Linked DNA regions of Homo sapiens. The protein of the gene in region 1 purifies or fractionates together with the protein of each later gene. This does not show direct contact. Each region holds a gene or a part of one and is shown in the gene's direction. Other genes may lie near its edges. The genes, in order: LHX9 and ZHX1.

Evidence for each region.
Region 2: the proteins of LHX9 (region 1) and ZHX1 purify together in Homo sapiens (affinity purification with mass spectrometry; 3 studies listed by BioGRID and IntAct, with this or other methods). This does not show direct contact.

The regions. Positions count from the first base shown.
Region 1 is NC_000001.11:197,912,936-197,927,229, forward strand, and holds the start of LHX9 (LIM/homeobox protein Lhx9), read left to right. Parts: upstream 1-4,436; 5' UTR 4,437-4,888; coding exon 4,889-5,062; intron 5,063-7,036; coding exon 7,037-7,239; intron 7,240-8,368; coding exon 8,369-8,724; intron 8,725-14,294. UniProt on the Homo sapiens protein: Involved in gonadal development.
Region 2 is NC_000008.11:123,267,715-123,283,421, reverse strand, and holds the start of ZHX1 (zinc fingers and homeoboxes protein 1), read left to right. Parts: upstream 1-9,135; 5' UTR 9,136-9,205; exon of another isoform or gene 9,206-9,300; intron 9,301-15,707. UniProt on the Homo sapiens protein: Acts as a transcriptional repressor. Increases DNMT3B-mediated repressive transcriptional activity when DNMT3B is tethered to DNA. May link molecule between DNMT3B and other co-repressor proteins.

The DNA.
Region 1 (14,294 bases):
GCCGAGAAGACACTGTTTCTCACACGTGTAGGGGTTAACTGGAAACTGGCTTCACCCACATTTTTTTGTTGTTGTTCAGTCCTAACCCAGCGCAGCCGTTTCTGCGCCTGATCTCAGCGGACGCAGTGCGGGACTTCTCCCTTTATTTCTGCAGAGCTGAGGGCAGGCGGCGCAACAAATCTCAGGTAAAAGAGCATCAGATTTCAGAAGAGCTGTATTCTAGACTTGGCGCAGGCCCCTTTGGGGAGAAGAGCCCAGGGGCTATAGAGAACAGAGGTTTGAAGGAAGCAAAAGCTGGCGAGAGGTTTTTTTTTTGTCGCGAAGGGTGAGGGTAGGCAGAGAACGCGCGAAAGGGCAGGGCCTTGGCCGGGAAGTACCGCCCAGCGAAAGGCTGGCAAGGGTGCGCAGCTGGAGCGTGGCCTCGGGTACCCCTTTCCAGGCAGCCGAACTCCCCGTATCCCAGCTCTGCTTGGCTGACTCCCATTTGTCTTGAGGGAGGATCCCCTAGTAGGACTGAATCAGAAGTGCGCCCGTGCAGCAGCCCCAGTATGGATCTGCCAACCTCAGTGTAGGGGGAAATTTTCCACATGGAGTATCTCAGTCTCCACTGTCTGGAGAAAGGCCCCAGCGTGTCCCGGCAATCCGCTCACCTTCCATCCAGCGCAGCCCGGGCATCCAGGGCCAGGTGGCGCGGCACTGAACGCATGGTTCCCAGCCTCAGGCTGACGCTGACGTTTCACTGGGCCTTGGGTGCTCAGGACAGTGCCAGACGCTGGATACTGTTTTAAGAGCCGCGCCTTTCAAACCGAAGGGGCTCCTTAACCAGCTTAACAGGGTCTGGAGGAAAGGTAACGCCTCCTTCTTAAAGGGCAAACTTAGAGGCGCAGAATCATGGCCTCCAAAATTCAGGTAGAGAGAGACCTTAAGTCACCTTTGCTCTCAAAATATGCACATTTGTTGGGTTACTTCTTCCCTCTCAACCCTAACTGTTCTGTGGGTTTAATTTCCCTTTCCTCCCCCCTAGGGAATTCTACTGGGCTCGGGTTCTTTGCCCATGTAGACCCACCTGAGCCGGCGACAAGGGCGCTGCAGTCTTTTTGACCTTCATAGAGATTCTAAGATCCCGAACTCTCAGTTCCAACTATTATGCTCCACTATAGTCCGGCCGTCCACTTTCCTAAAAGCGGCAACAGTAGCGGGATGGGTGCTGTCAGAATAGAAAGGAAAGAAAGCTTAGTGGACTGCGTGTGCTCAATTGTGAGGGAGAGCAGTGCTGGTCAAGGGACCTGCCCCATTATACCTGGTAGAACTTTGAATTTAGAGGAGACTTAAGATCTTATCCCCGACGCAGGCTAGAGAGAACCACATGCACCTGTCCCTCAGCTCAGGAACTGAAAAAATGAACACTGTAATTTTTATGGAACACTTGCGGGCCATTCAGACTACAGCTGGGAGAAGGGGGAACATTTTTTTTTTTGTCCCCAGCCACCGGGCCTCAGCCCCTCTGCTGGAGAGGTGAAAGAAAGCAGAGGTACAAAGATGCTTTCCTTATTTAAAGTGCTTATTTAAAGTCCTTTGAGAATGAGGAGCGGGGAGCTCTTAGGCAATCTTTCTTGGGGGCTCCAAGACAAAAAGAGTAGAAAACCCAGGGTCACACACCCAATTCGAGGGCATTCCTTCCCACCCTTCCTGGGCTTCCTCCTTAGGAACTGTGAGAGAAGGCAGGGCTGGACCCATGGGGACGTATTTCCGCAGAGCTAACAAGGACCTCCCAAACTCCAGCTGACCCCCACCCCACCCCCAGCTTTCTCCAGACTTCCTGCGTTCACTGAGAAGGAAGAATCCTGGCAGTTTGCTTCTTTACAGGAAGTAGCAAATGCCACTGGATGCAGGAACTTATAACCTGAGTTTTATAAGAGCAGGAATAGCTAGGATTCAACTTGGAAACTGATTGCAGAAGGTGTTCTGCCTTGCCTGTACCTAGATGATTAACAAACTTGTGTGGAATAGAAGAATGAATGGATGATTGGAGGGCTTACAAAACCTCTGTGTTTGGCTTCCCTGGAGACGCTGTAAAGTTCTGGCTTTTTCCTGGAGTTGTTTAACTTTCCCTGCATGCAGTCTCCAAAGTTTTATCTCTTGCAAGGAAGCAGTGGTATTCTTGGGTTCTTCATTGTTGATTTTGCTGAGCAGGGGCAATATGCAACAAGAACCAAACCTAATTTCAAACACCCCCATTTGGGGGTTGGGAGAGGTTTTAGCACAGAAACTAGACAAAGTAGGTTGAAGTCCTGTATTTACTTTTTGCTTGGAGCTTCCTTGGGTGAATTGACTGAGGGGACTTCTCAGAGACTCCTCCTCCTCCTCCTCTTTCTCCCTCTCCTCCTCCAGCTCTGAGCCAGTTTAGCCTCTGACTTGTGTGAAGGCAATCTGCCCTTTTGTGAGAGGACCTGCTGTCTCTGAAAGGACTGCTGCCCCCAGCCCCTCCTCAGGGCCCTTCTTGTGTGCACGTGGGTTTGAAAAGCTCATTGATTCCCATCCAAAGGGGCTAATTACATTACTTACAGTAAATAGCAGCCCTGCTGTCAGGTATAGCTGCCAAAGTAAGGAGGAGGGGGATGTCTCCAGCTTAGTTCACTTGATTGGCTTCATTTTTGTGTGAAATTGCGTTTTATGAGCTGCATTTTGGCACCCGGAGGACTTAAACTGCGTCCAGTCTGCAAATAACATTATTTTTGACCCTGAGAAAAAAGGAGGGGAAGCAGTAGTGTCTTCAGTTTCATGGAAGAGGTCACTCCAGGAGCCTCAGAAGACAACGCTTTGGGACAGGAAGTCAGGCTGCTGCACCAGGGGTCGTTTCCTCTCTCGCTTTATTTCTGCCTTCCTTCCTTCCCCTTCTTCTCATCCTCTCACTTCTTTTTTTCTTTCCTTCTTCCCTCTCTCCCTCTCTCCCTGGCTTTTCTCCCGTCATCTTTCTAGCTTTGGCCACAGTTCCCGGTCGGGCTCCCCCGGGCGGAGGGAAGCGGGTCTGCGGCCGGGCGGCTCTTGTGAGGTATCTAGGATGTGCCAGGACACAGGCACCGCAGTCCTGGGAAAGGCGGCGGGAAGTAGTGGGGAACGCAGGCTGACGAAGGGGACGGAAGGAACAGAGAGCGGCCGGCGCGTCCTCCTCTCTGGGTAAAGCCGCGTTGGTTCCTGCCGCAGCGCTGTGCTTCGGACTCCTAGGGGGCCTCTGGCCGTTTGAATGAATCGACAATATCAGAGTATTGTGGACACTTTTTAATGGGGCCGGGGAGGGGCCGCCGCTGCCGAGAACTGAGGGCGACAGAACAATCCCACCTCTTGTGAGGAGCAGGTCTGCCATTCTGCTTGTCAGTTCTCACCTTCCCCTCCTCCACGGCAAAGAGTCCCTTTCACACCCTTCTGAGTGTGCGGGTGCGCCCAGTTTTACAAGTCCTCTGTCCTGCCAGGGTAGTGGGAGAAGCACGCGATGGGGCTAGCGCCCAGTCCTGCGGGGGCAGGCGCCAAGCTCCCGGGAGTCCGCAAGTCGCTTCCTATATTGGCAAGCTTCAAATGAGACATTAGAATCTCCGGCAACCTTCCTTCAAACCTGAACCGGGGAAGAGAATAAGCCGCCCTATGGCCAAGGCGCAATTGCGTACCCGTGTGTACAGGTCCATGCCCTGTCCCCTACACTCTAATTTTCTCAAAGAAAATTGTTTTGCCAAAAGTAACCCTGAGAAATGCAGACGCTCCAAACGCCCTCTCCACTTCGGATGAAGCCAGCATCTAGTAGGGTCTCCGGCCCTCAAGAAGGTGAGGCAAAGAGATGAATTGTCAGACAGCTGCTTTTAAAAGTGGATTGAGGAAGATGGGATGGGGAGGAGAGGAACCAGCATTATCTCCACCTCAGTAAATTGCTTACATTTCTGCTCAATATTTATGCATTTCGGGTGACAGTCCTGCAGGCTGGGGATGAAAAAGTCCACAAGGAGGAAATCCAAAGTTTGAAGTTGATATTCTCTGTGTCCTGAGCCAAGGTCTGATCTTGAACTCGGATCAAATAGGCGGGTTCTAGGCCTTCTGCAACAGGGCGGGGACAACAAGAGCTCCTTTTCCCCTTTAAAACATGACTGCTGGGAACTCTTGGAAGGATGTGTGTGTGTGTGTGTGTGTGTGTGCGCGCGCGCGCGCGTGTGTGTGTTTTGTGGGGAGGTAAATGCCCCCTCCTCCTGCCTCCCCGCTCTCTATCCCCCCACCCCTTTGTAATGTTTGTCCTGCTTGCCCATCACCAGGGGGTTGAGAGGAGTATGACAGGTCTTTGTTGTCTGAATAAAAATCCGTGGCAGCTCCGGGGAGAGAACTCCTCCTACTAAATTATCAAAAATGGGCTGGCTTTAGTCTCTTAACAAATTGGACACAGCTCAGGCAGGAGCAGTCCCCAACCCAATCTACAGGCACTGGGAACTTGCAAGCAGCCAGGGAACGCTGAAAATAGCACGTCTTTTTCTTTCTTTGTGTTCAAAACTATTTTCTTTCTTCACCAGATTTTGTTTTCCTCCCCCCGCTGCAGTTGTTTCCCATTAGTAACTCGATCTCTCAGAGCAGTAAGATTCGCCTTCTACGCCTCTTTTTCCCTCCGCCCGAATTGTTTGTTTTCTGCACATCTCCTTCAGGGAGCCGCTGAGGCTTCCCCCCAACTCTTCCCAGTTCTTTTTGCTTCCCCTCGGCCCCCCAAGCAGACCGATTTCCACTCCATCTGTTTCTTCTCCTCCTTTCTCTCCCTCTTTCCCTCCATCCTCGAGCGTCTCTGCGCTCCTACAGGGCAGCCCTCTCTGGTCCCTTGCCTCCTTCACTCGGATGAGCTGAAAGCCCCGGGCGTGTGTATATGGAAATAGTGGGGTGCCGAGCAGAAGACAACTCGTGTCCTTTCCGCCCCCCAGCCATGCTCTTTCACGGGATCTCCGGAGGCCACATCCAAGGCATCATGGAGGAGATGGAGCGCAGATCCAAGACTGAGGCCCGTCTGGCCAAAGGCGCCCAGCTCAACGGCCGCGACGCGGTAAGGAAGGGCTCCGCCGCGGCGGTAGCCGGGCACCCCTGCGCCCTCTGTTAAACCAAGCCGACTCCCTGGCCGGTGGAGAACCGGAGCGGCGGGTCGTAGAGACGTCCGCTTGAGGGTGGCGGGTGAGTTTTCTCCCGTCCACCTATGCCTACAGGGCTAAGAAACGGTCGTTTTTCTGAATCGAAATGTCTGCAGCTGGCTATCCTCCGTCGCAGCTGATTCCGAAAGAGCAGGGAGAGGAACTGGGAGGAGGTGGGATGGGGGGTGGTGGCATTCTCTTCTACAGACCTCAAGGTTCCCTTGATTCCGGGGCAGGCGTCTCCCCGGCGAGGATCCGCAGCTCCGAGGGCAAGCTGGGCATAAGCAATAGGAGGACGGCGCGCTGCCGAGGCGTCCGAGCCAAGCAGGAGCCCAGGTGGCCTTAGTCTCTGGGCCTGATGACCGGACCTGTGGAGTAGATTCCGACGCGACTGGGTCATTTCCAGTTCTCTAGACGCTCGGGGCTTGGGACCCCTAACCGAGAGAATCTCAGGGTTTCTGGCATCCCGACTCAGTCCCTCTAAGGAGACAGCACTACGTTTAGCGCCAGGACCCGGCGGGTGTCATGTGTAGGGGGAAATCAAATAAAACATACGGAGGAGCGCGGCACCCAGTCGAAACGCATGAACTTTATAACCAACCCTTAAACAAGCTAATCAACCACCACTGTTTCTACTATCCATAATAATAAAGTCATGTCCTCTTAATAAAGAAAACTAATTACTTATCTAAGCGCTTCCCTTTCCAGATTACTAACGGGGGGGGGGGGGGACTACAGAAGTCTCCGGAAATTATTTCGGCCAAACATAGCTGTGTAGATCCTTTGGTACCACAGTAGGACTTGTAGCCCAAACTAATCAGGAGACTGCTCTAGCCCTTATCAGCTGGGTTTTGGGTCCGGCCAAGTAGCCCAACTGGTGAACGTGTCTATATTTGTAACACTCATTCAGTGCCGGGGCCCCTGGTCGGAGTAAAGGGCTAAACTTTACTTTTTCAGGCCCGCTGAAGTTTCGTGGGGAAGATCAACCCATTTCTGCTAGTCGTGAGGGAAATGTCCGGAGGTTAACTCCTTTTCCCTTTTTCTGGTCATCACTTTTAAAAACAAATAGTAGCAACCCAAACCCAAATTTTGCAGCGGGGCTGGGCTCCTCAAGGTGGGGCCACTGGGGCATCCCGAGTCGGGTCAGTGGGACCCAGAGGGAAGCATAACTTGGGCACTAAACAGATTTTCAAGACAAAGGTCTCAGTACGCCTGTTGATGCTAGGGAAAGAGGGGACTGTATACAGCGGGCTGGACAGCGGACCCTCTTTGGGAACAGCCACTTTACACATTTATTGGGAACGGCACCAATAGCCCTGAAAATTAGGGAACAGCAGGGGCTGCCAAATATATCTCAATCAAAACAAAGTCGACCAAATTATGAGCAGAGGTCCAATAATCTCCCCTTTGCTTTTGATTTCAATGCTGCTTATAAGAATTTAGAGAAATCGAACTGTAATATTTTTTGTTTAAAAATAACCTGTGCTCGTTGAAATTTCCTTTTCACTCCCTTATCATTTCCGTTGTTTTATTTTGTGTGCGTCGAAAACCACAATTTTTAGCTTGTAATTATTTGAATTCGGAAACGATCACCAAACTGTAGTCAATATTTTCCTAGTCCTTTTTAAGCGAGGCTCCGGATGGCTGGGATGTCTTTAGGTTAGTAGTCCCGGGAGGACGCGAACGCCGGTTCAGGCAGACACGGAAGAAAGCAAGCGGGCCGCAAAGAGAGAAATCACAAATGTTTCCCCTGACTTTTGCCTTTGTGCAGTGGACCCTGGCCCCTGCCGCTCTCCCTGCACACCCTGGGCTTGGTCTGCCTGGGGGAGAACCCCGCGTCGTGCGGCTACACCGCGCGCCCTCCTCAGCCTTGCGGTGTGCTTTCTTTGCAGGGCATGCCCCCGCTCAGCCCGGAGAAGCCCGCCCTGTGCGCCGGCTGCGGGGGCAAGATCTCGGACAGGTACTATCTGCTGGCTGTGGACAAACAGTGGCATCTGAGATGCCTGAAGTGCTGTGAATGTAAGCTGGCCCTCGAGTCCGAGCTCACCTGCTTTGCCAAGGACGGTAGCATTTACTGCAAGGAGGATTACTACAGGTACTCCCCTACACCCCCACTTCCTACGCCCGAGTACACCTGGAGGGGCCATCTGCCTGAGCCCGGAATCCCCTCTCCGTCCCCTACCTTTTGCCCCATTCCGGGTGCTGTTATCATTTCGGAGACCAGGCAAACCCACTGCATATGCCTTCAAGCTGTAATCTCCCTGACCGACGGTGAGGGTGGGTGGGAGGGACATTAAAAATCTAGAGCTTTATCAGCGAATACCACGCACTCCCATCACTTCTCAGCTTGGCTGGCGGAACTTGGGGAAATCTGGGGAAGAGTAAATGGACGTGGTCTCCGTCTACCGAGACTTGATTGGGTGTTTGTTTTCCGCTTGCTACGAATTGGGCAAGTTCTGCGCCTTGAAACTGAACTAGTGGCTCGGGCAGCAGCAACAGAGTGTTAGGTTTTCGTAGGTGGCAGGAGACTCTGTAAATGACTATGAAAAGGAATAAATGCCATTGCCAAAACCCAAGCCACTCAGTTCCGGGTTCCTTTTATCGCTAGTTACAACCATGCCCCCCAGATTGGAGAAAATCAGCAGCAGGCGTCTTTATTGATTCTTCTCAGTTATGTTTCTGGATTGGGAAAGACAGGACTAAGTGCAGGTGACCTAGTTCCGCTCTCAGCCCAAGCAAGATAAGTTGTTAAAAAAATAATAACCTTTCCTTTACAAAATCGTCATCTTCCAGGACTGTGTCCGCATGCTTTCCCACACCCGCGCACATCCAGGAATAATTATATCTTCTTTCATTCATATGTTTTGTAATTGATTAAGTGTTTTCACTTGGCATGGCAATTTAATATTCTAGTACCGTGAGTTAGCTAGTGCTAACTAGTGGTTTGCTTTTTTAAATTTTTTTTAATGTTTTAAATTTTCACTTTGCAGAGAAGAAAACTAAGGCTTAGTTGCCCGATTCTTCTGACTTTAATGTAAAGATCCTTTGTCTTGGTTTATCAGAAAAGGTCGATGAGCAAATAAAATTAATGCCTACTCTCCTGTCCCCCTGGAACCCTCCCAGGTCCCAGTCTCAGGCCACTGCAGACCAAACCCAGGTGTCGCGGGTGGGATATGGCTCTGCCTTGCTTCAACTAGCGCCCTGACTCAACTCTTTCCTTCCAGAAGGTTCTCTGTGCAGAGATGTGCCCGCTGCCACCTTGGCATTTCCGCCTCGGAGATGGTCATGCGCGCCCGAGACTCTGTCTACCACCTGAGCTGCTTCACCTGCTCCACTTGCAACAAGACTCTGACCACGGGCGACCATTTCGGCATGAAGGACAGCCTGGTGTACTGCCGCGCCCACTTCGAGACCCTCTTGCAAGGAGAGTATCCACCGCAGCTGAGCTACACGGAGCTGGCGGCCAAGAGCGGCGGCCTGGCCCTGCCTTACTTCAACGGTACGGGCACCGTGCAGAAAGGGCGGCCCCGGAAGCGGAAGAGCCCAGCGCTGGGAGTGGACATCGTCAATTACAACTCAGGTGTGCCTCCTATCCTCACCCCCGGCGCAGCCCCGGCCTCCCTGAGGAAAATTCGTAGAGCTCCTTCCCCGTCCAAAGTCTTGCTGCAAGAGTGTGTTTTGCCCAATGCCTCTGTTCTCACTGCAACTCCCTCTCACTCTGAAGGAAGGGAGAGAGGGAGGAGGAGGGGGGAAGGGAGGGAGAGGCAGCACTTTATTTAGGTTGTGGCAAAAAACACATTCATAACTATGGGGCTGTAGTGACTTTCCCCAAACAGGCAGAGCCAAATCCTTGTTGCCCATTAGTTAATGAGCCCATTAGTTTCTGGCTCTCAGTTGGAGCAAAACAGCCCCAGGGCAATTTCTTTGTGGAGGCCAAATTATAGATCCTGTAGGAGGTTTCCTAAATACTGAAGAAAAAAAAAAAAGTCTACAGAGCCCAACCCTAGTCTGTCTAGAGGGGTCAGAGGCTGTGGTCACCAGCCCAAAGTTAATCAGGAACACAGTTGGCAAGAGTGTTGAAAAACCTAATCCCTGATCTTGGCAAAAAGCAGTTGTAGGGGTGGGAATCACTCTCCACAGCTGAGCTAGCCTGTGTCTTTCCTAAGCCAGGATATTCAACCAGCCGTCTCATTCCCGGTGTGATAGACCATCCAGACATCCAGACCCCTGGAACTGAAAGTACCTCCAGGTCAGGCCTCCTGAAGAGGCTTAGTGGTATCTCAGGCCATTCATCTATACTCAACCACCTTCTCTCTTCATTAAAAACAACATGCAGACAACAAGTCAAGAACACATTCTTCCTTGCTTTGGGGGACACGCCTATCATGTATCAATCTCTCACATGCAGCAGTTTCCCATTGTTGGTAGCCTGCCCCCACTCCCCATCCTCCAGGTGAGGATGGTGATCGGCTCTGCAGATGATAATCTAACTCTGAGCAGAACAGAAGCTATTCTTGTGAGTCCCAATCACTGGAAAAAAAGAGGTTGTAGAAAGCCCTGGCGCACTTTTGGGGAGCCTAAGGACCTTAACTGCTTTGGCTTTCAGTGCCCTGGCCCACATGTGGCTGAGAATCTCAGCAGACTCAGGACAGGGGAGACCATTCTGTTGGAAGGAACCTTGAGGACCTTATTATGGCAACCCCACTCTATTACTATGAATGCCCCCAGATACCAAGCATGGGCATCTCAGAGCATGGGATCTTGCCTGTTTTTCTCTTCCAGTTCCCAGGGCCTGGTATGGTGCCTGACATTGCTAGTCAATGGTAAAGAACAGTGTCCAGCCAGTTAAGTGATTTGCCCAAGATCACACAGCCAGTGTGAATGTGAAGCTAAGAGTCCTGCTCTGAGTTTAGAGTTTTCAGGGGAACCCACACAGGATGAGTGGCCGCTCTCTCAGACCTCCGTTGGGCTCTCTCCTGGGGTTCTCTACCGACTGATCTAACTGAAGAGGAGAATCCTTTATGGGCAAGCACAGCGGGTGGCCTTGCAGGGAGAATGGGGAGCAATGAGGAACACTGTGCGGCAGCACTTGTCCCTAGGGGGTTCATACCAGGGCTGCTGGACGAAAAGAAAAGGACCTGCCGGCTCACTGCAAATCTCACCAGGGTCGGTCAATCTGTGTGAGGGCAGCGGGCGAAGCCCCGGGTTTTGGCAACCCTCAGTAGTGGCCATGCCCTCACACTGGCCCCTGCTGTGCTGGGGCAGGAGATTTGGTTAGGGGCCACTTTGCCCAGCATGCTTACTTCATCTTCTTTGATGCGTGGTCCCCGGGGCAGGGCAGGCAGGGCACTAATTGTTCTTTATTAATAGAAGGTGACATTGGAATCTCAAGCCACTCACCAAGGCCCTAATTCCCAGAGAGAGAGAGAGAGAGAGAGAGAGAAAGCAAGCCACTCATACATAAACTAGTGAGTTTTTTTTTGAAAGAAAGGATCTCTCAGCCCGGATAAAGTCCAGAAGGGTGAAGATTTCTAGCCAAATAGTAGGCAAGCCTGACTTTTTGATTGTTTATTTAATCTAATTTGCTAAATTTGATTTCGCCTTGGATCTTCATGTTAGATCCAAGGAGCTTTAAGAACAGTAGAATTTAGATTCTTTTACTTCTCTGAAAATAACTAGAGAGTACAAATTTATTTTTAAGAAGAATAAAAGAATCCTTCTGAGCCACTTAGGTCTTTAGTTTGCAGATTAATGCTGCTACAAGTTGTTGTGGAGAAGGTCGCTTTTGTCTTGGTCCCAAAGGAGGGAAAAATTGCTTAGGCCCCCTTAGCCCGAAGAGTTTGTACCTCGCACCACTACAAACTGGATGCCTCTTAGTTAACATCTACTCCATCCTTTCTGGACTTTTCCCAGAGATACTATTCAATAGTATATATATTTTAAAGATCAGGTTAAAATTATCTATGGGAATTGGTTTGAAGATGCCTGACCAGAAATCAGGCCATCATTTAAAACAGTGCTTGCGAATCTGATGCCACTTTGTTCCAAAACTAGGGAAAGAAACCCTTCAGCAAATTAAACACGCGTTAAAATGTAAAAAAATAAAATAAATCCAGTTTTAACTCGTTATTTTAGCCTTCTTTGGATTTTGTCTTGCTATCTTTCATTAAATGTAAACATTAAATGTAAACAAGTCTCATAAAGGGTAAGGTTGATACTAAACTAAGTATAATTTACACAATATGTTTTCAAAATGTGCAGAAAACATGTTTGTGATTCAAAGAATCTCAGAGAAGATGTGAAACTTGGCAAAGGCCAGCTAGTGCTTGATAGGGCAAATGCCTTTTAATGAGAATGTCCCTAGTTTTGTTTATACCTCTGTGCAAATTAATCAGGCAAATATTTTAGAAAGAGACATGGAAAGTTTACCTGAAATGCTAGCTTGAAATAAAGCCCTCTAGGGATGAGAAGAAGATTTAGTTTAGGATAGGAAGCTCTTATTTGTGTAATTTAAACATTAATTGAGAGATTAAACTTTTGCCACTTCTCAAAATATCCTTTCCTTAAGCCCTTTCTTCCTATCCAAACTTTTAAGGCTCCTGGTGGTTAAATTAGCCTGGCACTGACCCCTAGTGGTCTTCCAGGGATCACTTCATTCTCAGAAGGTTACATACCTTCACAGCGACACTCACTTTAGGATGGGTGCCCATCGCATAAGTGACTGGAAATAAAATACTTAGATCTTCTCATTAACTTATAATACTGGATGTGAACTGACAGGTAGATATTTAAGACAGTTTTAAGAGTTATCATTTCATCTCATAATTCGGGGAGTGGGGGAATCCCCTACAGCTTTAGCAATAGGCCTTGGAGAAACAGTCATTTGCAAGTTTATATAATGCATGTGTAGTTAAACATAAATAATATCAGATAATGCACTGTTACTCTGTAGAAGAAATAGCTTTCTCTATTAAGTTGCATAATATGAGATAACAGTCACAGGAAAATCATATATAGTAATATCTGTTTAATAAAGACCCAACGAGCTATCTCCTTACATATTGGATTGTGTATTTTATGTGGAAACAGGGCCTATAACTGTATTTTACACACTAAAAGGCTCTGCTGAGTTTTTAATCAGCAATAATGGATATAGAATGCGTTTTAAGGGAAGCCATTTCATTAAATCTTACTACAATTATTTTTCATAAATTTCATTTTAAGAACTAATGATTATATAGTCAGGTTGGGAATCATATTCATTTCTATATATTACCTTGGTGTGGAGTGGGGGAAAGATGGCCAAGGGCATTATTTAAACACCAAGTCCTCTGTCCCAAGTGTGAAATTCAATTTGATGTATTGTTCAGGAAAGGTTACATGTTACATATGATAGGAAAGAAATCTGAGTTGAAGAACCCTCCGATGACTAACATGTGCCCCTTTGACTATTTTTTGTGGGTATATTTATAATCTGGTTATGAAATATGGCTGAGTTTACTGGAGATAAGTATAGTTTTATAGTAGGTCATAGAGATGCTGTTTCATCCATTTGAGGATATGAAAGTGCAATTCTGTAGAATATTTGAACTTGACATATCCCCACTGGGCCAAAATAGGATAAAATGTAATGCATACTCTTTCTGTTATCTCTGGACATATGGTAGCCTTTCTGGTGGAGTTTAGGAAGCCTATGTTTTACATTCGAATGTATATATCTGACTTGGATTCCACTTCAAGTTGATTTAATTTCGCATTAATACTCACTTGTAATTTACTGATGAACAAAGGGCCCAACATCTTGATTGAATGCTTCTTGAGCTCCTACCCCTGTGTTTGACTCAGGGAATCAATTCAAAGTTGAATATGGTATAGTCAGTTCCCTCAATGAACTCACCTGTTCTTTTGCCAAGTGTGTCCTCCTACTTATGCGTCTTATGGAAATACAAACAAAGGAGACATTTGTTTGTGTCTAGTCTTTTTACATTAGGAAGAATTTCTTGTTAAGTGAGTTTTATATGTGGCTGCCTTCTTGGGTGATGACTACAAAACTTCTGTATTTCTGTAAATATGCTGATTTGCTGAATATTTTTTAAAAAGTAATTCTAAACAGAGCCTAGCAGGCAGATAACATTGTATTAAGCAGAACATTTTATTAAGCAGATTGGAAGAGCTCACATTAAGGGATGCCTCCCTTTTTTAAGATTCAGGTTTCTTTCTCCCTGGAATGACATGATCAGGTTGGTTTTAGATTTTCTATTATAAAGCAGTACAAGGCAGGATGATCAGATCTAAATTTATATAACTATCTGAAGGAAGAATTTAAAGAAAAAAAATTACCATGCTCTTTAATTTGTGAAGTTGGCTGAAGTTGGTTGTGTAAATATTTCACAAAATGTTTTCATTTTACAATTGTATTTCCTATGCAGAGCCAGTAGATTCTTGGAAATGACCCTTTAAAAGTGTAGCTTTACATCCTGGGGATAATGACTTTCTGGCTGGTTTCAAAGACTGGGTTGTTTTGCCCTTGGTGCTAAGAAAGTCTTTGTAAGGGAAGAGAAAATGCCGCCCTCTCTCTGCCAGGCCAGCCAGGGGCACAGCTCACATCCCACTCACACACATCTGGAGCAAAAGGGACTAAGATCTGAGCCTAGAAATAAGCACCATCAGTATCTCTCAACTGTGAGCTGTGGGGAGCGCTTCAGGCGTGAACCGTGTGAAGGGAAGTCTGGGCTCATTCTCTTTCAGAAATATTTATTAAAATCACTCCAGGGGAAAAATATTTTCTTTCTGGTATAGCCCTGTGTTAACCAGTCATAGCTAAAAGCTGAAACAAATAATATTCTTATGTTTACATAAGAAATTCACAAATTTTGAATTTCTAACTTCTCCTCCTTTTTCAGCCTTTTCTAACTTTTTCCTGACTGACGGAGCTCTAGGAATATGAGAAAAGGCTAACCCTTAGAATTGACCTAGATGCTTCCTTAGTTGGTGGGCTCTCAGAAACTTTCAGACTTGAGGGAGTAGTAATACTTGTTTCTCTACGTCTCATGACAAAAAGCAATACCTTCAGACAGTGTGTCTCATTCCAGAAATATAGACAAAAGGTAGAGTCTTAAAACACTGTGAGTGTGGGCAGTGGGGAGCTGG
Region 2 (15,707 bases), on another chromosome or scaffold:
TTTATGTATATATAAACATATAAGCTATATTAAAGACCTACTGTGTGCAAGGCATTAGGAAAGATACAAATATGAATGCAATATGGTCCCTGCCCCCAAAGAGCTTATAATACAATAAAATATGTCAAGTTGCATCTAAATCTAATGTAAACATCCAAACTGCATCATACCTCACCAAAGAGTTTAGGTTTGCCTTGACTTTTACTTTTTTTTTTTTTTTTTTTGGCAACGGAGTCTCACTCTGTCTCCCAGGCTGGAGTGCAGCAGTCCTGGCTCACTGCAACCTCTGCCTTCTGGGTTCAAGAGAGTCTCCTGCCTCAGCTTCCCAAGTAGCTGGGATTACAGGCGCACATCACCACGCCCGGCTAATTTTTGTATTTTTTGTAGAGACGGGGTTTTGCCATGTTGGCCAGGCTGGTCTTGAACTCCTCACCTCAGGTGATCTGCCCAAGTGCTGGGATTACAGGTGTCTCCCACCGTGCCCAACCTGCCTTGACTTTTTTAATCATCCAAGGCACAGAAGGATGGACTGTAGGCTTTACTGTGTGGTGGAAAAGGAGGGCCTGTGGAGTCAAACATGTGTTTCAATCTTCTTGAATAGGTTCTCCAAAAAAGATGCCTTTTGTTAAGGTAACATGGAAGAAACATTTACTGCTCACCAAAATACCTATTTGCTCTACCACATTTCCCATAACTAGCCACATTTCTTGTATATGGCCAAAAAGAGGAAGCAGCCTGGGTCCCTGAGTCACCACTTAGAAGCGAATCGCCCTAGAGAATCACTGAGGGCCCAAAGAAGCCTCGATGACTGAAAAGTTATGTTAAGACTGGGTATTTGGGGTTTGTTACAGCAGCATAGCCTAGTCCGTTCGGACAAATAGAGATAATGTGTTCACATGATGGTTGTTGACCTTCTGATGGAAAGATCTCCAGCCCTACCAGAGTCCTGCAACCCAATATTTGAACTTCTGCCTCCACAATTTGTGGAACTTGAGCAAACAAATCTTACGCCCCAATTTTCTTATCTACAAAATGGGGGATGTAGTATTAATGCTCATAGGATTGCTCTGAAAATTACATTAGATTATATAGAAAAGTACTGAGCTCAGAACCTGGCAGGTAGAGGTTCTTCATATAAGTTGGTTACCTCCCTTCCCCCTTGAATGAGGCCAGTGGTTCTCAAAACTGACTGCATTTTGGAATCATCTGGGAAGCTTTTTAAAAACAAAACAAAAGAGTGCCTATATCTCACCATAAACTGAATAAATCAGAATCTTCGGGGGGGTAGAGCTGGGGTGCAGATTTTTTTTTTTTCTTTGAATAGACCAATAAAAAATAGATGTTTTCAGAAAACACCAGGTGATTCTATTGTCTAGCTGAAAACCATTGCCTTTGGCAATGTGGAAACAAAATGCTATTTGATTAAACATAAGATAAACTCGCCATAATATAAAAAGCCTTCAAAAAGTAGCCAGTATGACCACCCTTTTCATAGACTCGGAACTTTAAAAAATTACAAACCACAGAGAGTCAGTAAGTAGTTACTGAATATTCTTAGGGACTGAAAGACATTCGGAAATGCAGAACTGTGGATAAGCCCAGGAAAGAACAGGCTGAGATACTACTTGCATTTTGTAGTTTATAATGATTACTGTTTTCCTCCTACTATGGGCTGAATTGTGACTCCCTCAGAATTCATATGTTAAAGCCCTAACTCCCAGCGCCTTAGAACGTGACCAAGGTTGGACACAGGGTCTTTGCAGAGGTCATTTAAAATGACGTCAGGAGGGTAGATCCTAATCCTGTGTACTGGTGTCCTTATAAGGAGAGCAAATTTGAACACCAACATATACAGAGGGAAGATGATGTGGAGACGCAGGGAGAAGATGGCCATCTGCAAGTCAAGGAGACAGGCATGGAAAAGATCCTTCCCTGATAGCCCTCAGAAGAAACCCCAACCCTGGCTAGGCGCAGTGGCTCACCCCTGTATTCCCAGAACTTTGGGAGGCCGAGGCGCGCAGATCACAAGGTCAGGAGATTGAGACCATTCTGGCTAACACGGTGAAACCCCGTCTCTACTAAAAATACAAAAATTAGCCAGGCATAGTGGCGGGCGCCTGTGGTCCCAGCTACTTGGGAGGCTGAGGCAGGAGAATGGTGTGAACCTGGGAGGCGGAGCTTGCAGTAAGCCGAGATTGCGCCACTGCACTCCAGCCTGGGTGACAGAGCCGGACTTTGTCGCAAAAAAAAAAAAAAAAAGAAATGTACAGAGAGGAGATGGATTTTATAAGGTCCTTGAAATTGAGTCCTTTCACTATTTGATGGAAAGGTAAACTCAAATTGTAGAGAAGGCGACATATGTCCAGGAGATGTAAAGCGTTGTCTTTGCTGGCTCACAGCCATCTTCTGAAGGAACCGTCGTTGCTTACAGCCTCTGCTGCCCAAGTAAAACTGCTCTTTCCCCACAAGACTGGCTTCCCCTCCTAACCTGGCAGATTGCACTAAGCTGACCTTTTAAGAAGAAATGTGCTGGACCAATCAGGTTCTCTCTTTAGATTTGGGAATTGGGGCATTAACTCTAATGAACAGAGCTCAACAGTCATGTTGGACTCCTTGGCTGAGGCTACTTAGCCAGGCCATGTTCTCGAGGAGACTTAAAAGGAGTCAAGAGGCCAGGCGCGGTGGCTCATGACTGTAATCCCAGCACTTTGGGAGGCCGAGGTGGATGGATCACATGAGGTCGGGAGTTCGAGACCAGCCTGACCAACATGGAGAAACCCCATCTCTACTAAGAATACAAAATTAGCAGGGCATGGTGGCCCATGCCTGTAATCCCAGCTACTGAGGAGGCTGAGGCAGGAGAATCGCTTGAACCTGGGAGGCGGACGTTGCCGTGAGCCGAGATTGCGCCACTGCATTCCAGCCTGGGCAAAAAGAGTGAAACTCTGTCTCAAAAAAAAAAAAAATTTTAAAAAAGGGAGTCAAGAGAGGAGACGATGGAGTAGACCTGCAGGGTCAAAGAGTAGCTTTCGTTCCTGGATTGAGCTAGCTTAAGAGAGTTTCGGTACCTCACAACCAGAACTATGTTGACTGAACAGTATGAAATCAAGAGTAAGAAAATCAGGGCTAACGTCCTTCCCTGAGGAGCCACATAAATCAGCCTGGTCTCTCTTCCATGCAAATTCATAAGACTTTCAGGCTGGAAAGACCATAGAGAGCATCATCAGGCTGATATTTTCTGGGAAGTTAAGGTAACTTTTCATCAACTATTAACCCTTTGATATAGGACACAACAATTGTAATGTTATCTTCATTTTACAGATGAGTGAAAACATAGACAGGTTAAGAAACCTGCCTTCAGTCACATAGTGTGGTAACTCAATGACAGAAATGGCCACAATTATTTGCCGTTCCTGTAGCCTCATCCTTTGCAATGTGACTTTGCAGCTGCTTTCAAGAGGTGGGATCAAGCGGAAAATGGCAGTGCACGCCTGTAGTCCTAGCTACACGGGAGGTTGAGGCAGTAGGATGCCTTGAGCCCAGGAGTTCAAGGCTGCAGTGAGCTATGATTGTGCCACTGCACTTCAACCTGGGCAACAGCAAGACCCTGTCTCTCTCTCTAAAAAAAAAAAGGAGGTGGAATCAGGGCTGGCTCTGTGATTGGCTTTGGCCAGCAAAATGTGGCAGAAATGACAGTTATGTCAGCTCTGAGCCTAGGCTTCAAGAGATCTTAAAGGCTGCTTCTGGCTTTCTTGGAACACTGTGGCTGCTTGTGAATGAGTCCAGGCTATTCTACTGGAAGATGAGACAAAGTGGCCCAGTTCCTGCTGTGATCAACAGCCAGCCATCCACTGAATGTGTGGCTGAAGCTGTCCTGCATAAGCCAGCCCCTGGATATATGAATGCAGCTGTCCGAGACCAGGCAGCCCCCAGACAGCCCACCTGCTGACCACAGATGCCTGAGCAAGTCCAGCCGAGATCAGCCAAACCTGCTCCAGTTCAGAACTACCCAGATTAGCAGACTCAACCAGCTGACCCACAGACCTCTGAGGTAACTAATTGCTTCATTTTTTAAGCCACTAAATTGTGGTGGGTTTGTACTTCTTGATACCGTTAGCAAGTGGCAGAGAATCTGGGATTTGACAGTGACCATCTGACTTCAATGACAGTGAATGCTCTCAAATCCAGTGCACACTGTAGCTTGGCTAATGCAATGCCTTCTTTCTTAGAAGCAGTGTATGTAACATCTTTATTAGGATTTAGGACTGGTCAGGATGGATTCAAAATCCAGCTTACTTATCCTGGGTAGGTTAATCTCTCCAAACTTTAGCTTCCTCATATGTTAACTGCAAACAATACCCACAATCTCACAGAGATACTAGGAGGGTATAATGGGATAACATATCTAAAGTGCTCAGAGTTTAATGAGCTGTGACCTTTCCTAGAATATGGAAAGTCTGCAATGGGTCCGAAAGTTCTTATTGACTGAAGGCATTTCCTTCCCAGTGTTGATGTCCATGTAACTGACAATTTTAGGAATGGTATTTCTTTTCAGAGTTTTTGTAGCTTGTAACCCTTAGTTATTTCTACAAGAAATTTTTCCTTAATTATAAGCGTTTGTTTAGACGAGTATTTCTCAAAGTCTGCAGCTGCATGTCAAATGCAGATTCATGGCCTCGTCCCAGACCCACTGAATTAGACTCTTCCAGGAGTGGGGTCTGAGAATCTATTTTTAAAGAAAGTTCTCCATAATTTTCATGAACATTAAAGTTTAAGGACTGCTACTTAGACTTCTCTGCAAAGACTGAAACACAGTGAATTATTGCATTTTCTCACTCTAGCATTGCTTTCTAGTGGAGGAGTGTTCCCTAGGGTTATTTGTATGCTACATTTTTATGTTAAAAAATAGATACTGCCACTTTTTCCTTAGAAGTCATGCTGATACAGCCACTAAGGTTTTTTTGGTTGTTTGTTTGTTTGAGACAGAGTCTTGCTCTGTCACCCAGGCTGGAGTGCAGTGGTGCGCTCTTGGCTCACTGCGGCCTCTGCCTCCCAGGTTCAAGCGATTCTCCTGCCTCAGCCTCCTGAGTAGCTGGGACTATAGGCACATGCCACCACGCTCGGCTAATTTTTGTATTTTTAGTACAGACAGGGTTTCACCATGTTGGCCAGGATGGTCTCGATCTCCTGACCTTGTGATCCACCTGCCTCAGCCTCCCAAAGTGCTGGGATTACAGGCGTGAGGCACCCTGCCTGGCCAAGACACTAAGTTTTGGTGGATATAGAGTTACACACCAATGAATGAATCAACCCAGATGACACTATGATTAAAATATAAAGTGTATCAATGTGTTACTCTTTGAATGAATACTGGAAAATCAGTTTTCCTCTCTGTTTTTCTTGTTTTGCATCTATAGTCCTGTAGTACTATATATGGTCCTATGCTAGAAGTAGAGGGAAAGAGTGGAGTGGGAAGGAATTTTACAAGTACCAAGAATATTGACTTGTTTTTACTGTTGTTATTACCAATAACATTATTATTTTCACAGAGCAAGCACTAAGAGAAACAGGAAATGGCTTGACCCCTAAACTGTCTTAGAAAGTTTATTCAGCCTGAACTAGTTTTAGTAGGAACATTTTTGTTCACCTTCTAATGTAGCCATTACAGAAAATAGTGGGAGCACTTCACTAGGGCTAAATTCTTAAGTTCACCTAACTGTAGTCAAAAGTTTAAAGTGTCTTAGTTTGATGTCTTTTTGGCTGGTCTATTTCATGGTATCATGTTTTTAAAAAGACTTTTTCACAAAAAGTGGAAAAAGGAAAAATAATAACAGAAGGGAACTACTACAAAAAGTGCTGTTGGAAGCCTATTCCTCTTCAGATGACACCAGAGCTTAGAACTTTTTATCCAAAGCTCTTCATTTCCTACCAATATTTTTTTTTCACTGTTCCAAAGGTGGAAGAGGCTCTGAATAGCAAAAGTGCTGTGCTTTTTAAAACCTGCTGAACAACTTCTATCTCTAAGAGTACTGAAGTTTTGCCATACCAGTTTGAGTATGACAAACTGCAAAACATATGCATAAAAAAAATCTAGACTTCTAATTGTGCCAATCCATGGTTAAAAAAAAAAACTCCTGGAGCCACGCAGCTGTTAAAATCCATCATATTTACAATTTTTATAAATGAATTTATTTTAATAAAAACAAGTTACTCTGTGAGCCTGATCTCTAAGCAGATTTATGTGGGCTGGCACAATCTGCTATGCTAAACATATATTCATATTGCTTAAGTCTGCAACCAGTTTTTTTTTTTGAGTGGTGATGATAACAGTCTTGCTTTGTAGAAGGATACCAAGTAATTGGCAGCAATTCAGCTAAGGACATTGTTCTCAGCACTGTGTTTTCTTGGACAGAATTGCCCTGTGGGCATGACCCTAAACTGGGAGAATTCTGGATGGCTGGCATTGGGCAGTGAACCAGGGAGACAGCTTATAGGGAGGAGGAGGTGACTCTATAAACTAGTGCTAAAGTAGAAGAGGAGAAGGAAGAATAAAGTGAGGGAGGAAGTGGGGGTAAAATGTGAAGTTACAGTCAACAGCTCCACATCCCTAAAGGGGTCTCTTCTCATCTTTCACTTGACACATCTTTATGCTCCTGTTTTTTGCTTGGCTACTTGATTGTAAGTTCCTGGAAGACAGGAAAGTTGACTAACTCAGCTGTACATCTCCCACAGTGCCTGGCATATACTGGCACACACAAAACCTAGTCATCGGCCGGGTGTGGTGGCTCACACCTGTAATGCCAGAACTTTGGGAGGCCAAGGAGGGCGGATCACGAGGTTAGGAGTTCGCAACCAGCCTGACCAACATGGTGAAACCCCGTTTGTACTAAAAATACAAAAATTAGCCGGGTGTGGTGGCACGCGCCTGTAATCCCACCTACTCAAGAGGCTGAGGCAGAAGAATGACTTGAACCCAGGAGGCAGAGGTTGCAGTGAGCCGAAATCGCACCATTTCACTCCAGCCTGGGCAACAGAGCGAGACTCCGTCTCAAAAACAACAACAACAACAACAACAAAAGAAAACTTGTCATTAACTGTGTAGACAAAAGAATGAATTTCTCTATTTGAAGCATTTCCAGACCTCTTCCTCGGTCTAAAGAGGTTCCCAGCGAGGGCAGTACTGCCCCTCAGGGGCATACTGAAATTTTGCCGGGACAGTTTTTGTTTTGCATTCTATTGGTGGCAGAGTATTTACATTGTGAAAACTCTGTTATTTTAAAATTTTTCTTGATATTAGTACATACAGTATTTTATTATGAACTACTTTCTCCTTTTTCACCTTTATTAGAACATTACATTGGTTTCTTGAAATTATTTGTAGAGATAGTTTGCATTAGGAATTTAACTCCAGAAGAGTAAAGCAGTGTTATATTTTTTGTTGTAAATACAGGGCATTGAATGTGGCAGGGTTGAATACCTTTGCTTATAAAATTAAGCCTTATCCTACACAAGTTTTAGGATTCCAGGATGAAACCTACAAATAAAAAGAATATTGTAGAACACTGATTTCAACGATCAGATTCCACGGCCAGGCGCGGTGGCTCACTCCTGTAATCCCAATACTTTGGGAGGCCGAGGCTGGCGGATCACTTGAGTTCAGGGGTTCAAGACCAGCCTGGCCAACATGGCGAAACCCTGTCTCTACCAAAAATACAAAAATTACCCCGGCGTTAGGTGACGGGCCCCTGTAATCCCAACTACTCGGGAGGCTGAGGCAGGAGAATCGCTTGAACCCGGGAGGCAGAGGTTGCAGTGAGCAGAGATCGCGCCATTTCACTTCAGCCTAAGCGACAACGCGAGACTCCGTCTCAAAAAAAAAAAAAAAATCAGACTTCCACTTGAAGCAATTGCATCTTTTAGGATTAATGTGGCTCAGCGGAGCTCTGCTGTGCTTTTAGGATTACTGTGGCTCAGCGGAGCTCTGCACAAAGGGTCCGCGACTGGGATGGGGGTGGGGAGTGAACGTCAAGGGGCCCAGGAGCGCTCGAGCGTCCAAGGCCCGGCGTGTGGAGCAGCTGGAGGGTGAGTCGCCGCTCTCCGCTTTGGTTCTGTTCCTCCACGTTCTGACCGCGGTGCGGGGGAAAGGGAAAGTGAGTAGGGAGGGGCGGAGACGCCGGGCAGTGTTCCCGAAACCCCTGGCCCTCGCTGGCCCCGCTGCGGGGCTGGTTCCCTGAAAGCCGACGGGATGTGAAGCCCTCGACTCGGACAGAAGCCTCTGGAAGAGCGAGTGGCGGTTCGCAGGGAGGAGGGCGGCTGAGGGGCAGAGGGCGGCTCCGCCTTGCCCGGCGGTTCTGAGTGCAGCTGAACTGAACTTTCGGTGTCAGCGGGTGGAGCTGCGGCCCGCGGAGGAGCGGGGTCCGAAGCGAGGAGAGGTGGAGCTGCCGCTGACAAGGGGCGCGGCGACTTCTGTCAGGGCGCTGGGCTCCCGGCCGGACTCGCAGCAGCCCCCCGAGGGGCGGGGCCTGGGTCGTGTCGCCCCAGGGGATGGGCGTGTGATGACAAGGGGCGTTTCAGTAGAAGCCAGCATGCTTACCTCTCACGATCCAGCAGTGACATTAGGAAGGCGGAGCGCAAGGAAGGCGGGGCTGCCTTCTGTGCTGACCCGAGAGAAGACCAGGCTTCAGTCCACAGCGGGCGGAGCGGTCGCAGGCAAAGGGCGGGGCCATTTCGAGCCCTGGGAAGGCGGGGCGTCTCCTGACAGGGGGCGGAGCTTCCGCAGTCTGGGGCGGGGCTTCTGTTGACAGGGGGGCGGGGCGCCTCCCTACCTCCCGCGGTGCGCCAATCCCCGGACTAGGGGCCGGGGTCGGACCCCAGTGGAGTAGCAGGGTCTGGGCGTGGAGAGCTCGGCGCCGCACGGGGTGGGGGCGCGCGGAGGACGCGCGCGCGGGAGGGCCCCGCCTTGGCCGGCTCTCTCCCTTCCCCCTCCGCCCCCGGACGGCCGCTGGGGCGCGCGCCTCTCCTCGCACCCCCACCCTGAGTCCCCACACTCCGCGGGGCCACCGAGCTGCTGAGGCCCCTTTGCGGGCCCGCCGAGCGGTTCCGGGTTTAGGGTTCACAGGTCAGAGTTGACTCCCTGAAAAGTGCAGCCGGTTTGAAATGCAAGATGGCGGCGGCGTGGCGCTGAGAGGCGCGGCGGCCCCTGCAGGTAGTGGCGCGAGCCGGCTCCGCGACCAGCGGGCCCGGAGACTCTGGGCTGCGGGTGGGAACTGGAGCGCAGAGTCCGCGGCCGGCACGGGAAAGGCGAGTAGCGCGGGGCCTGGCGGGAGGAGGGCAGCCTCACAGCAGAGACCCCTGGGGCTGAGCCCGCTCGCGGCGGCGGGTGGCGGGGTGGACCCGGCGTGGGGCGTCCGAGGGGGAGGGACGGGGCCTGCCTCGCGGCTGGGTAGTCGCCGCAGAGGGACAGACAGACCCACAGCCTCCCTCGCTCTTTTTGGGTGTCTCCGCCACCGAAAGAGCTTGGGGGCGGGGGGCTCTCTGGAGGGAACATCTCAGCCCCCTGCCTTGGTGAGGACCCAGCAACTTAGGATTGTTGAGAGGAGTGAAGACTGCGTATTCCCAGCGGAGGGCGCCGCCGGAGGGAGCACCCCAGTAATGTTGGGAGTCCTAGAGGAGGTCAGGAGCGCTGTCCTCCGGGGGCGTGTGGCTGCCTCGTGGGGGACCCAGTCTCCCTGAGAGTAAGGAGAGATTCTCTTGCTGGAGCTGAGCGCACTGACTGAGGTTGGAGCCCCAGCAAACCCTTCAGGAGAAGTCTTTACCTCCAGTTCAAGGAAGGCTATGCGCACCCGTTTCGGGGCCAGGCCATGTCCCAACTTTGGGAAAGACTGGGAGTTGAGTCCTTAAGAACCATATTACGATTGTGACGAAGCCCTGGGATTTAGGGAGAAGTTAATTAAAGAGGATGGTAGGGGCGTGGGGGTGTGGGGGCTGACCCATGGGAATCCTCCAAGCCTTAGGGCCCACAGTGAACAATCTACTAATACCTCAAGGGGTATAAAAGGCTGGGAAGGAGAGGTGTGAGAGGAACAAGGTCTAAGGGCAGGAAAGAAGAGCCCTGGCAGATCCCCTTTCCTTATATATTTACACCAAAGTTGGAGGTAAAGGGACTTGGCAATTCTTTGTTTTAGTACCTTTCCTGTCCTCTCTCCTCCGTGGGTAACTGTAAGGAAAGAGCATAGCCCCTGAGAAGGAAAAGATTCCATTTGATATCCTTAGCTTAGGTTAGTGAAGGATCCAGCAGCTGGGAAGGCGTCAATGAGAGACAGCAGGCGGGGGAATTAGAACAGAGACTAGGGATGAGAAAAGAGGAATACAGGGAAGATATCGGACAGAGCAGGAATTCCACAGCCCTTTTCTGTCAACTCAGCCCAGCTATTAGAAAAAAAAAAAAATGCGAAGAGCTAATATTTGAGAGAAAAATGTAAAGGCTGAGAGAGAAGTCGTGATGTGATTAGGTTGGGATTCCATGTAACTTAAGCAGTTCTCTTGGAGGTTAATGTGATAGCAGAAAAAGGAAAATCACAAAATTGGAAAATATACAGCGGTTCACGGTTAGGGAGGAAGAAGCAGTCTCCCCCCAGGAACAGTGAATATTTGGTTTGGGGTGTGTGTGTGTGTTGTGTGTATACATATATAAGAGCACTTTAGATTTGCTGGTGTTGGTCATTGTTTCTCAGTCTTTGTCTGAAAGCTTTAATTTGTGTTATATGGTGCTACATTAATTATCTTCGTTTCTGAAAAATTATTCTGAAAAAGTCATTTGTTTTTATGTCGGGAGCGAAGGTGAGCAGGAGTTGGTTTTAACAGGGAAATTGGCCCTAGTATACCCATCGATTATTTTAATTTCTAAAGTAGCAATTCTGACTCCTGATTTTAAGCAAAAGAAATGTGAGTGCTGCCAATGACAATAATGCGGTAACAGGACATAAAAGAAAAAGGGCTTTCATGAATATTTTTTTCCTTTTAGCTTTTCTCTCCTTTCCCAAAGCATGTTAAGGCTAAGCAGACTAATTTTATACAAAGTAAAATGTATAATCGTGGACCTTTTCGATATAAAATGATAGCATTTCAGTTATCAATGAATCTTTTTTGTTGAAGTACCTCTTCAGACGCCTTATTTGACAATCAGGATTAAAATGAGAAAGGGTAATACTTGGGTAACTGATGATAGTGATGATTCATAGAGATTTCTTGAACCATTCTTGTATTTTCGAAAGAGCTTTAACGTCTTCAATGGAAATGTTTTAAAGATACAGTTCAAATAGAAACTAGTTTAGAACTTTACATTTGGAACATTTTATGCACGTGTGCTGTTCTTTGGTTTCCTCAATGTTCATGTAGCTCTGGTTTTATATTCAATTCTGAACAGATTAGGCTGGGTGAACCAGAGAGGCATTAATGCCAGATGGTTTGAAAATATGCTAAATCCGAAAACATAAATGTGCCTGTGCTAGTGAACACTCATTAGTGGATTTCTTTCCTTTATAGCTAAGCTTATTATTTCACCGGATTTGGGGGGTAGTTCATGCATGATGTAGCAATTATTTCACCTTTAATGATAATTGTAAGTTCTTTTTTTTTCAATAATTGGGGACAAAGTTTTACAGTTATTAGCGAAATTAATAGCATAGGAGAGGTGGTTCATTTTGAAGATTTTTCTCCCTTTTGTATTATTATATTTTATATTAAGATGGAAAGGTTATATTATGATGTATTATATTTCTTATGCTAATTAAGCATAAAATGTGATATTTGAGACTTAGTTTGCTGTAAATTATAACTTAATACTTAAATGAAAATGCTTTTAAAATTATTAAAATGATCACAAATGTAGCTGAGGAAATAACCCTTTTATTTGTGTTGCAGCATTGTGGATTTGGGCCCAAAGACTTTACTTAAATAAACAGTGTTGAAAGTTCAGCACCTAGTTTTTAATCTAATATCATAGTCAGTGCAATTATTCAGAGAGATTTTTGGAATTATCTATTGTACTGTTTATGGTGCTAGCCAGTAATACACATTTTTTAAATCATTATAAATATTTATTTATGTTGTGATAAGCACATTTACTGTTAAGACTAAATTTTTTGAACTTAAAATCCTTTTAAATAATCCTACGTAGTTTCAAAAGTAAGTTATAGTTCTGTTTTTAAAACTGATACTATCTTTAGAATAAGAGCCAATGTTTCTATACTATTATTGATAAATTTTATTGTATCCTTGTTGCTCTGATATATTTGTAGTCATCAATAACCAGATTTGCATGACTAAAGTTGCTGACTTAGATTATTAATCAGAATATACATTTGAGTTTACATTTTGGAGATCTGCATTTTATACAGGATATTCTTAAAGTAAATATTAATATGTAACTTTGTATGTAGTTGCCAGGTTTTGATCTTAAAAGATACTTAATCTTGGCATTTTATACAATCAGTTTCCAACTTAAGAGGTAAGACTGTATACCTTTGGTCTAAACAAATGTGATGATATACTTTGTAAAATAAGTATATATGAGCAGTTTAAGAATTATGTTTATTCAAGGGAGCCAGTTGAATACATTTTTTTTTTTTTTTTTTTGAGACGGGGTCTCATTCTGTGGCCCAGGCTGGAGTGCAGTGGCATGATCATGGCTCACTGCACCCTCAAACTCCTGTGCTCAAGCGATCCTTTCTCCTCAGCCTCTTGAGTAGCTAGGACTACAGTCATGTGTCACCCACGCCCGGCTAATTTTTAATTTTTTTTTTTGTAGAGATAGGGTCTTACTGTGTTGCCCTAGCTGGTCTCAAACTCCTGGCCTCAAGCAATCCTTCTGCCTTGGCCTCCCAACATGCTGGGATTACAGGTGTGAGCCACTGCACTCAGCCAAATAAATCATTTTTAATGCAAGATTTTAATTTTCAGTTCTTAGTTTTAGATTTTAAAAAATATTATCAGAATTTATCTTAACAAAATTAAAATATCGAAGTCATAGCCATATCATATATTATTGTAAATAAAATAACTCTTTCATTAAATTTTGGTGATTTCCTATTTCTCAAGATTTCTAACTTCCTTTTTCCCCTTCTTAAAAGTCTTTTCCTTTTTTGTTTTTTAGTGAGAAATGAAAGAAGATAGGAGGTTCTGATATTTCTAAGCACTAAACTAATAATTATATTTTTCTTCTAAGTTTATTCTCTTTTACCATCAATATTCTTAAAAAGAAGTTTGTTAAAATTTTGCTAGACATGGGCTATACTTGGGAGTGGGGAAGATCATGAGAACAATTTCTCCTCGTTACTATGATAAAATTACTTATATCAGATGTTTGCTAGTTCTATGAAATACCCCTTAAATATGTCATACAGTAATGATTTATTTTGAAGCTAAGGTCAGAAAAAGTTTGTGGGGGGAGAGGTTAAATTTGATTGATTAGTATCTGCCTTTTGAAGCCAACTTGTTCCAGCATGATTTAATATGCTCAGAGGTATGAAATGGCAAATAAATTTTGTTGGTTGGTTGTTACCCAGATTCTTAAAGTATTTTATCACTTGTCAACAGTTAGCAAATTTTAAAGAAAGATTTCTTTGCTAACATTCATTGTGTTCTAAGTACCAAGGAATATTCCAGAAACTTTACACGTGTTACCTATTCCAATCCTCACAACAACCCTATTAAGTAAATAGTATCCTATTAATATTACCAGTCCCATTTATAGATGATGGGGCTGAGGCACAGATAGGCTAAGCCATTTTTCTAAAGTCACACAGCTAGTAAGTGGCATGCTGTATTTGAACCCAGTCTGTTCCAAATTCCAAGCTCTCAGTCTTTTTTTGTAATCCATCTACTACCAGAACAGCTTGTTCTGTTTTATTATATAATGTACATAGCTGAGATGAGCTCTTTAATTTTTGGAATTCACTCATACTAAATTAAGAAAAATACTTTGAATTAGATAGAAATGTTCTAAAGTAATCCCAGTATCAGGAACTTAAATAACATCAGGCAACTAGGATTTTCATTCAAAAGCACTGATGAGCTCATTTTTGCTCCTCTGGTATCCTGGTGCCTTTACATGTCTTGGCAGCTCTTCTCAAGAGACTCATTCGGTAAAATATCTTGCAATTACTGTGTGATTTTAAGAATGGATTGAAGTAGGTTACCAGATTCCTAAAGTATTAATAATTCATTTTGGAAAATAACCTTCCCTCTTTGGCAGCTGTTTCCTATCTTCTCTTCTAGTCCACATCCTGTAGATTGATGGCTAACGAGTGGCGGAACAAGGAGATACCAGGAAATGAAACTGTAGAGTCCCAGGCTACAGAGATAATAAGATGCTCCACTGGGCCTACCAGGAAAATGCTCTTTTGCTTTTCATGAAAATAGTGTACTTATTCAGCCTAAGTTTTAACCTAACCTAGAGGTATTTTACTAAAGGACTGGTGTATTTACATTATTTCTTGATGTGAGAAGTTTCTTCATAAACTTGTATGTAATAGTAGCAGGAATAAAAAAATAAGGTTAATTGGGAAAATACTCTTCCTTAATATTTATTCATTATAGTTTACAGAGAATAGTGCTTAAAGAATACAACAAAAGGCCGGTTAGGGATCATGCCTGTAATCCCAGCACTTTGGGAGGCCAAGGCGGGCAGATCACTTGAGCTCAGGAGATAGAGACCATCCTGGCCAACATGGTGAAACCCTGTCTCTACTAAAAATACAAAAATTAGTTGGGTGTGGTGGCGTGTGCCTGTAATCCCAGCTACTCGGGAGGCTGAGGCAGGAGAATCGCTTGAACCAGGGAGTCGGAGATTGCAGTGATTCGATATTGCGCCACTGCACTCCAGCTGGGCGACACAGTGAGACTCCATCTCAAAAAAAAAAGAATACAACCAAAATGCTTTAACCCTTCAAAAGTGTTATTTATGACTGTTCTAGTAAGAAAAGCAATTGTAGCTTTATTAAACTTTTCTGATGGGTTTAACTGATCTAGATTATATACAACAACATATTTGGACAGTAATTGAATTTTCAGAGAATTATTTTCTGTTTATTTGATTGCATGATGTTAATACTTCACAGTGCACTGATTGTAAAGCCATTTGGTAGTAGCTTTCAGGCAAAAACGACATGGCTAAACACCAGTCATTTTGTTAGATAACCCCATGTTTGTAGATCAAGTACTACTAGTTTGTTTAACTTGTTTTGGCTTGTGTTGTCAGCATTAATAATCCTCTCCATTCTGATTAACATAATAAATTAGGATACAAATATCACTAGGTTTATGTACTAACACATAAACATATACAACTACTCCCATTTCTTAGTTTAACTAAATTGTCTTCATAACCTTTGTATACTTATTTATTTATTTATTTATTTAGAGTCAGAGTTTCGCTCTTGTTGCCCAGACTGGGGTGCAATGGCGCAATCTCGGCTCACTGCAACCTCTGCCTCCCCGGTTCAAGCGATTCTCCTGCCTCAGCTTCCCGAGTAGCTGGGATTACAGGCATGCGCCACCACGCCCAGCTAATTTTGTATTTTTAGTAGAGACGGGGTTTCTCCTTGTTGGTCAGACTGGTCTCAAACTCCCAACCTCAGGTGATCCGCCGGCCTTGGCCTCCCGAAGTGCTGGGATTACAGGTGTGAGCCACCGCGCCCGGCCGGTAT